Homo sapiens: one gene and its partner. Each later gene encodes a partner of the first gene's protein in a complex. Each region holds a gene or a part of one and is shown in the gene's direction. Other genes may lie near its edges. The genes, in order: CDC45 and MCM2.

The links.
Region 2: CDC45 (region 1) and MCM2 share a complex: the UniProt entries of both Homo sapiens proteins name them as parts of the CMG helicase complex.

The regions. Positions count from the first base shown.
Region 1 is NC_000022.11:19,482,920-19,486,737, forward strand, and holds part of CDC45 (cell division control protein 45 homolog), read left to right. Parts: intron 1-942; coding exon 943-1,086; intron 1,087-3,818. UniProt on the Homo sapiens protein: Required for initiation of chromosomal DNA replication. Core component of CDC45-MCM-GINS (CMG) helicase, the molecular machine that unwinds template DNA during replication, and around which the replisome is built.
Region 2 is NC_000003.12:127,611,909-127,615,726, forward strand, and holds part of MCM2 (DNA replication licensing factor MCM2), read left to right. Parts: intron 1-3,818. UniProt on the Homo sapiens protein: Acts as a component of the MCM2-7 complex (MCM complex) which is the replicative helicase essential for 'once per cell cycle' DNA replication initiation and elongation in eukaryotic cells.

The DNA.
Region 1 (3,818 bases):
ACCCTGTGGGACTGGGAACAGCCTGAACACAAGAACTTGGTCTTTGTCATCTTTTTTTTTTTTTTTTAAGGAGAGTCTGGAGTACACTGGCACAATCATGGCTCACTGCAGCCTCAAACTCCTGGGTTCAACTGACCCTTCCTGCCTCAGCCTCCTTAGTAGGTGGGACTACAGGCACATGCCACCACGCCCAGCAAATATTTGTTTTTATTTTTGTTGAAATGGAGTCTTGGCTGGGCGCGGTGGCTCACGCCTGTAATCCCAGCACTTTGGGAGGCCGAGGCAGGCGGATTACGAGGTCAGAAGATTGAGACCATCCTGGCTAACATGGTGAAACCCCGTCTCTACTAAAAATACAAAAAATTAGCCAGGCATAGTGTTGGACGCTTGTAGTCCCAGCTACTCAGGAGGCTGAGGCAGGAGAATGGCATGAACCCAGGAGGCAGAGCTTGCAGTGAGCCGAGATCGTGCCACTGCACTCCAGCTTGGGCGACAGAGCGAGACTCCGTCTCCAAAAAAAAAAGAAAAGAAAAATCAGCCTGGAGTTGCTTTCAGACAGGAGTTTTAGTCACCACTTAGGGGTTACACATCTTCATGTCCTATATCAGACAGAGGCCAAGTTGTGGGGCGTTCATTTTATTGGTGTATGACGTAAGAGGATGCTGTGTTTCCAGACTTAAGTAGACTAGATGGTTCTCAAAGAACTGTTTTCAGATTTTCATAATTTCTGCATACCACGTATGGTGTAACTCTGGTGCCTCACTGGTAATGAAAACAAGAAAATTCCTTAGAAGCCTGGAACTCTTGTTAAATAGGTAGCTATTTGTATGAACAGGAAACTGAGTCAGCTTATTAGGAAATGATAAGATTCTGCAGAAGAACATATTGTATAGTTTTCCGTAGAAAGAGGAGAGGCTTAATTCCTTTTTGTTTTGAACTTAGATCAAATTACTCATTAAACAAGATGATGACCTTGAAGTTCCCGCCTATGAAGACATCTTCAGGGATGAAGAGGAGGATGAAGAGCATTCAGGAAATGACAGTGATGGGTCAGAGCCTTCTGAGAAGCGCACACGGTTAGAAGAGGTGAGTTTGGGTCTCTCACAGCTATCCCAGAGGAACTTGCACTCCCAGAGGTCGGAGGTCATCCTGAAGCCTGCCAGGCCAAGGTGTACTGAGGGCAGTGGGAAGTGGAAAAGTTAGCAGGCATGGATGCTGACCCTGGGCTCTGCTGTCCCCTGGTTATGTGGCCTCAGGCAGGTTACTGGACTTCCCTAAATAGTGGCTTATCTGTCCAATAGGATCCTGTCAGAAGAAATGAAATTTAGGACAGCTCAGCTCTGCGGCTAGATAGCAAAAAAATAATGTAGAGAAGCAATAAATAGTGTAACCCCCACCCCTTCCTTTTCTACTGTCTTCTAGCATCACTTACTATGCAGTCACTGCAGAGGAGCAATGTGGGTCTGCATCCCTTGGCCAGGCCCAGTCCCAGACAATTACTGCAGGGGAGGTATCTTGTATGTGAAGATACCAGTGGTTTTCACCATGTGGACCTTGGGTCTGAGCTGCTTAGTGATCTGGGGCTGGGCCCAGTGGCCTACCCAACACTACGGCTTCTGCAAGATGTAAAATGACAGGCAGAAGGTGGTTGTTCCCATAGCACGGAGGGCCACGTGATGCTTTTGAAGATGGCCTCTGGCTCCTGATCTTGGTGTGTGACCTAGAATTTGCCCCCGTAATGTTCTAGGGTCTTCCCTTCATCCTCAGCCTGACATTTCCCGGTAATGTGCTTTTGGGAAGCCTTTTTGAGCCATATTTGAGATGTTCAAGACATTCTTCATTTGGGGAAGGGGCAATGCCCTTCAAACTGAGGCATGCTTCTCTCTTCTTTCTCACCTTTGTCACCCCTTTCACTAGGTTTGGGTGTCTCATAGGGAACCTCTTGGACCCACTGTTATATTTTCTTACCTCTTGCCCAGCTCTTTGTTCTATTTTTTGGAAGACTTTTTGTTTTTTGTTTTTTTTTTGTTTTTTCCCCAGACGGGGTCTCTCTCTGTTTCCCAGGCTGGCCTCAAACTTCGGGCTCACTCGATCTTCCCACTTCAGCCTCCCAAGTAGCTGAGACTAAGCACATGCCACTACACTCAGCTTGGTCTTTATCTTCTAATCTTTGGTTTGTGAGGGGTCCTTTTTGTTCTCTGAATTTTTTTTTATATAGCATTCTTTTAACTATCGATGAGCTGCATTTCATTGGTTCCCAAATGTCAGTATCCAATGGGATTTCCCGGGAAACATTCATGTTCTACAGATAAGTCTTGGAATTTTCCACTCTGACTAATAAACAAATATTTTTTAAGCACTTACTATGTGCCAGGTACCAGTTAGGCCCTGGGGTGCGGGTATGAGAGCAAAGTCCTGCCTTTGCAAAGCTTTCCATTGGGGGAGACAGATACTGATCATGTAAATGAGCACAATTAGGGAAAGCTTTCAGGTATCAAACATGAGTTAGCAGGGGATGGAGCCAAGAGGATTCCTGGGCAGAGCATCCATAGACACTGCAGCTCTGAGGTGGGAAGGAAAGTTTCAAGGAAGGCTTGGCCAGCAGTGCCAAAGGAACAGGCAAATGAGAACAGACCAGTGGGTTTGGCAATAAAGAGAAGGTAGGTTGTCTTGATGAGATACAGGAAAATAATCAGCGTTTCCTTTTACATACTTAACACATCAATTTGGAATTTGTGTTTGTAAATGTTTAACATAATATTCATGGATTATAATAGGCATAATTTCCCACCAACTTTTTATTTTGAAATTTTTTGAAATGTATACAGTGGTTGAAAGGATAGTACAGTGAATATCCATGTACCTTCAATCTAGAGTCAACAGTGGATCATGACTGTAGGTGGTCTCAGCTACTTGGGAGGCCAAGGCAGGAGGATTGATGAAGCCCAGGAATTTGAGAACAGCCTGGGCAACATGAAGAGAACCTGTCTCAAAAAAAACAAAAACAGTTTTTCACATTTGCCACATTTGCTTTCTTTCTGTGTATTCTTTTTTCTGTATTATTTGAGAATAGATTGCAGAAACTGATATTCTTTTTTATTTTTTATTTTGTTTTTTCTTGAGATGGAGTCTCACTCTGTCACTGAGGCTGGGGTGCAGTGGCACGATCTCGGCTCCCTTCAACCTCTGTCTTCTGGGTTCAAGCGATTCGCCTGCCTCAGCCTCCCAAGTAGCTAGGATTACAGGCATGCACTGCCACAGCCAGCCAGAAACCATGATATTCTACACATTCTTTCATAAGCAGCTCCTAAGAATAAGGACATTCTTCCCCATAAACACAATGCCATTGTCATACATAAGAAATTAATAATATCCTAATATCATGTAATATTCAGCCCATATTCAGGTCTCTTTAATTGTCCTCAAAATATATTTTGCAGCTATTTTTATTTCTGAACTATTCTCCAATCAAGATTAAGACATTTAGCTATTCCTCTTTACTGTCTTAACCTAGAACCATACCTTACCTCTTTTTTTTCTTTTGTTTTTAATGACATTGAAGGCCAGTTCTCTTTTCTAATATTTACTACTACTTGTTTCTTCATGGAGTACTTTAACTTGCTTCTCTATCCCTGCATTTTCTATGATCTGTAAATTAGGTCTAGAGCGTTGATTTTAATAACATTAAGCATTCTTGAGAAGAATACTTTTTATATAATTAAAACCTGTGCATGATTTATAACTAAGTATGTGTATATTAGAGGTATATATATATTTTTTTGAGACGGAGTCTCGCTCTGTCGCCCAGGCTGGAGTGC
Region 2 (3,818 bases), on another chromosome or scaffold:
CGGGATGGTCTCGATCTCCTGACCTCGTGATCCGCCCGCCTCGGCCTCCCAAAGTGCTGGGATTACAGGCGTGAGCCACCGCGCCCGGCCAACAGCTGACTTTTTGTATTTGTTTTTATTTTGAGTTAGTTATCATCCTTGAGGGATCCGGAGACTTCACATAGAAATCCGGATGCTTTTTGAAAATCCAAGATCTGTGGGTGCTGGCTCTGTGTTCCTCTCTGGTAACGCTGACGGAGCTGAGGCATAGCTGCCCTTGCAGGTAGGGCCTGTGTCCCCAGGTTTACCCCGTCCCCTACTCTGTCAGTTTCATGGCCCTGCCTGCCTTCCGTGGGCCCTGGACACTGATCTGGTAAAGTATTAAAGAGATCAGGGTCATGCCCAACACTTAGAGATTTTAAAGAACTAACAGAAGCAGCATGCAGTCTGAAGCCAGACTTTTTAGGTTTGAATTTTGGCCTAATCCTTAGGATGGTCAGATGAGTCACCCTTATCTATAGAAATGAGAGGATGAGAGTAAACACTCATAGAGTTGTTATAAAGATCAAATAAATTAGTGCATATAAAGTACTTGGCTGTTGGCGAGTGCTCAGTATCTGGCTGTTACTGTACATGGCTACCAAAGTTAAACTATTTGTACAAAAACTGGATGGAAGAGCCTGTGACAGGCGTGTAGAAAGCATAAGCAGCCAGTAGGTAGGACAAAAATAGCTTTGAGCCTGATGCTTTAGGCATTTTACACACATTATCTCAGGCTCATGGTACCCATGCAGGTGGGTGCTTTTTCTCCGTTTGCTGGGTGGAGCTCACAGTACCCACTCAGGTGGGCACTCTATCCCTGTTTGCTGGGTGCGGAGACTGAGGAGTGCTAGGAAGCAGCACACCTAGAGCCAGGAGGAGCATGAGCTTTGGATTCAGATGCATCTGGGGTCGAGTCTTGCCTCTCCTCTAGGAGAAAATATTTTGACCTGAGCCTTGGTTTCCTCTGTAGGATCGAGAGAAACAAGGTTATTATGAGGATTACATGAGGTAATTCATGGAAAGCGCTGTTATTCCCTGGCAGGTCTGGGATTTGATTCTGCCCCACTTTCCAGCCATTAAATTAGCCTGCTACTCTCTCCTGGAGTAACTGGGTCAGCGGTGGAAGGCACAGCAGGCAGTGTAGGCATTCACACATTTGCGCTGCTTGCCCTCCAGTCCCACAGGGAAGTCCCCCTGGATGCAGTGGTTGCTTTACAGGAGGGGGATTGAGTTGGGCAATCTGCCCTGCATAGCAAGCAGGAAGCTCTTGGCCCTGGAGGGAGACATTACCTCATCCTGCAAGGTTGCTCGCTACAAAAATTATACGGGGAAATGAGCTGGGTTAAGAGGAGTCAAGGATTGGCAGTCTTGGCACATCCAGCACGAGGTGTGTTGGGGCATGAGAGGTCCGTGGAGTGGTCTGCCCAGCATCTGCAGCACAAAGTAAGAGTTTCATAAGAGAGTCATTATACTTACTGAGGACTTAGTATCTGCTTGGCATTGTCTAGGTAATTTCTAGATAGCAATGTTCCTGTGAGGTTTCATCTCTGCCTGTTTTACTGATGAATAAACTAAGGCACAAAAGGTTAGATAAGTTGGCCATAGTCACATAGCAAGTGGCAGAGTCAGCAGCCTGGCTTGAGTCCATGCTCCCAGTGACTGTATTGTGCCAACAGTTGGTGAGTTTATTTGGTTATTGTGAGTTCCATGGGCACTCTGTGTTACATAAGGCCTGGCCCACATTTTAAAACATTGTTACAGAAAATTTCAAACAGGTATGTAGAATGGTGTAGTGAACTTTGACCATTTGTCTTAGTCCATTTTCTGCTGCTACAACAGAATACCATAGACTGGGTAATTTATAATGAACAGAAATTTATTGACTTATGGTTTTGGAGGCTGGAAGTCCAAAATTGAGGGCTGGCATCTGGTGAGGGCCTTCTTGCCATGTCATCCCATGGCAAAAAGGTGAGAGTTAAAGAGACAGAGTGAGAGCCCAGAGGGGGCCAGACTCATCCTTTTACAAGGACCTACTCCCTGGATAGCAGTGCTTTTATCCTCCATTCATGAGAGCAGATCCCTCATGGCCTGATCACCCCTTAAAGGTCCCACCTTTTAATACTGTTAAATGGGGGATTAAGATGCCAACACATGCTTTCTGGGGGGTACATTCAAACTGTAGCACTCTACCCAGCTTCCACAGCTGTCATAGTCACAGCCAATCGAGTGTTCTTAATACACCACCCATTCACCCTTGGTATATTTCAAGGCAAATTCCAGGCATGCCGTTTTTTTCTGTAACTACATCAGTATGTATATGAAAAAGAAAAGACTCTCTTTGAATAAACCTAGCCACAATACCATTATCTCACTTTAAGAGGTGATTAACAATTCCTTAATATCCAATATTCTGTTGTTGTTCACATTTCCCTGATTATCTTACCCCTTCCCCCTGTTTTTTACAGCTTCTTGGAGTCATTATCCAAATAAGATCCATAAGTTGTGATTGGTTGATATCTCTTAAGTCTCATAATCTTTAGATCTTTTCTCCATCTCTTTTTTCCTTGTAATTTTTTGTGGAAGAAACTGGGTCATTTGTTCTGTTGAGCCTTGCAGTCGAGATATTGCTAATTATGTCCCCATTAGACACACACCTCTGTCACCTGTGTTTTCTGTAATTTGGCAGTCAGGCACTGAAGCCTAGTCAGGTAAATGCCTGCTTATTTTCTTTGACTTACTAGTTTTAAAAATAATGAATTGGTTCCCAGGTGACCTGGGTATCATAACAGACAAATAGGCCCGCCGGGTGTTGAGGTTTCCACGCTGCAGGTGTCATCCCTACAATGCTCAAGTGTCCCTTTTTTGCCAGCGTGAACCTATTCATGTTGGCTCCTGAGTTCTGTTGACATGACCCTGGTTGTCTTTGAGTGATTTTTTGCTTTCTGGTAGAAGATATTGCAGGCTTCTCTTGTACATTTCCAGCCCCGGACCTGGAATTGGACATTTCTCCAAGAAGCCCCGTGGGAAGTGTTACTTGCTTTCAGAGGGAGATAGGAGTTAGAGACACCTCTAAAGCTGCATGAATTTGATGGTGCAGGCAGGACATACAGGATGCAGCCTGATGGGGGTGTCTCCCCTCCACCTTCAGGGCTGGTTTTCCTGCCTTAGTCCCCTCTCCCCAGGCGAGGGCCAGTGCTTTCTGAGCTTCTTTGTCTGTCCTACAAGGAGGGAAGGATGTGGGTGTGGCCAGTGCAGGGGGGTATGAAGGCTGAAAGCTATCAAAACATGGCTCTGCTGCAGGTGGAGTTGGAAGCAGTCTCCTACAAGCAAGAAATGTCTTTGATGTCTCTAATTCTATCTAAAATTCATGAAGATTTTGCTCTCTCCCTGTCTCTTTCTTTCTCTCACACACACACTGAAATAGAAATGTTCCAGTGACTCACTAGTTGGAATTACTTCCTGGTGGACACATCTCCCAGATGTGCCACATTTATTGCATTGACGAGGCAGGCACTTGCATGAACTGTCGCATTTGTACCCACCCTTCTGTGAGTTGGATGTTGCCATCTCTCTTTTCCATATGAAGAAACTGAGGCTTGAGGTAGGCCAGTGCCATGACAGACCTGGTTCTGGTCTTATTTCTGCTCTTGGTCTGTGATCTTGGGAAAGGCCTTTCTGAAATATGTCAAGATTAGGGGTTCAGATGAAGGTTCTTCTAAACTCCAAAGTTCTGTGACTCTTGGGAAGAGCCAACTAATGAAAAGCTTTAGAGTCGGGCACGGCTTGATACCAGGGCC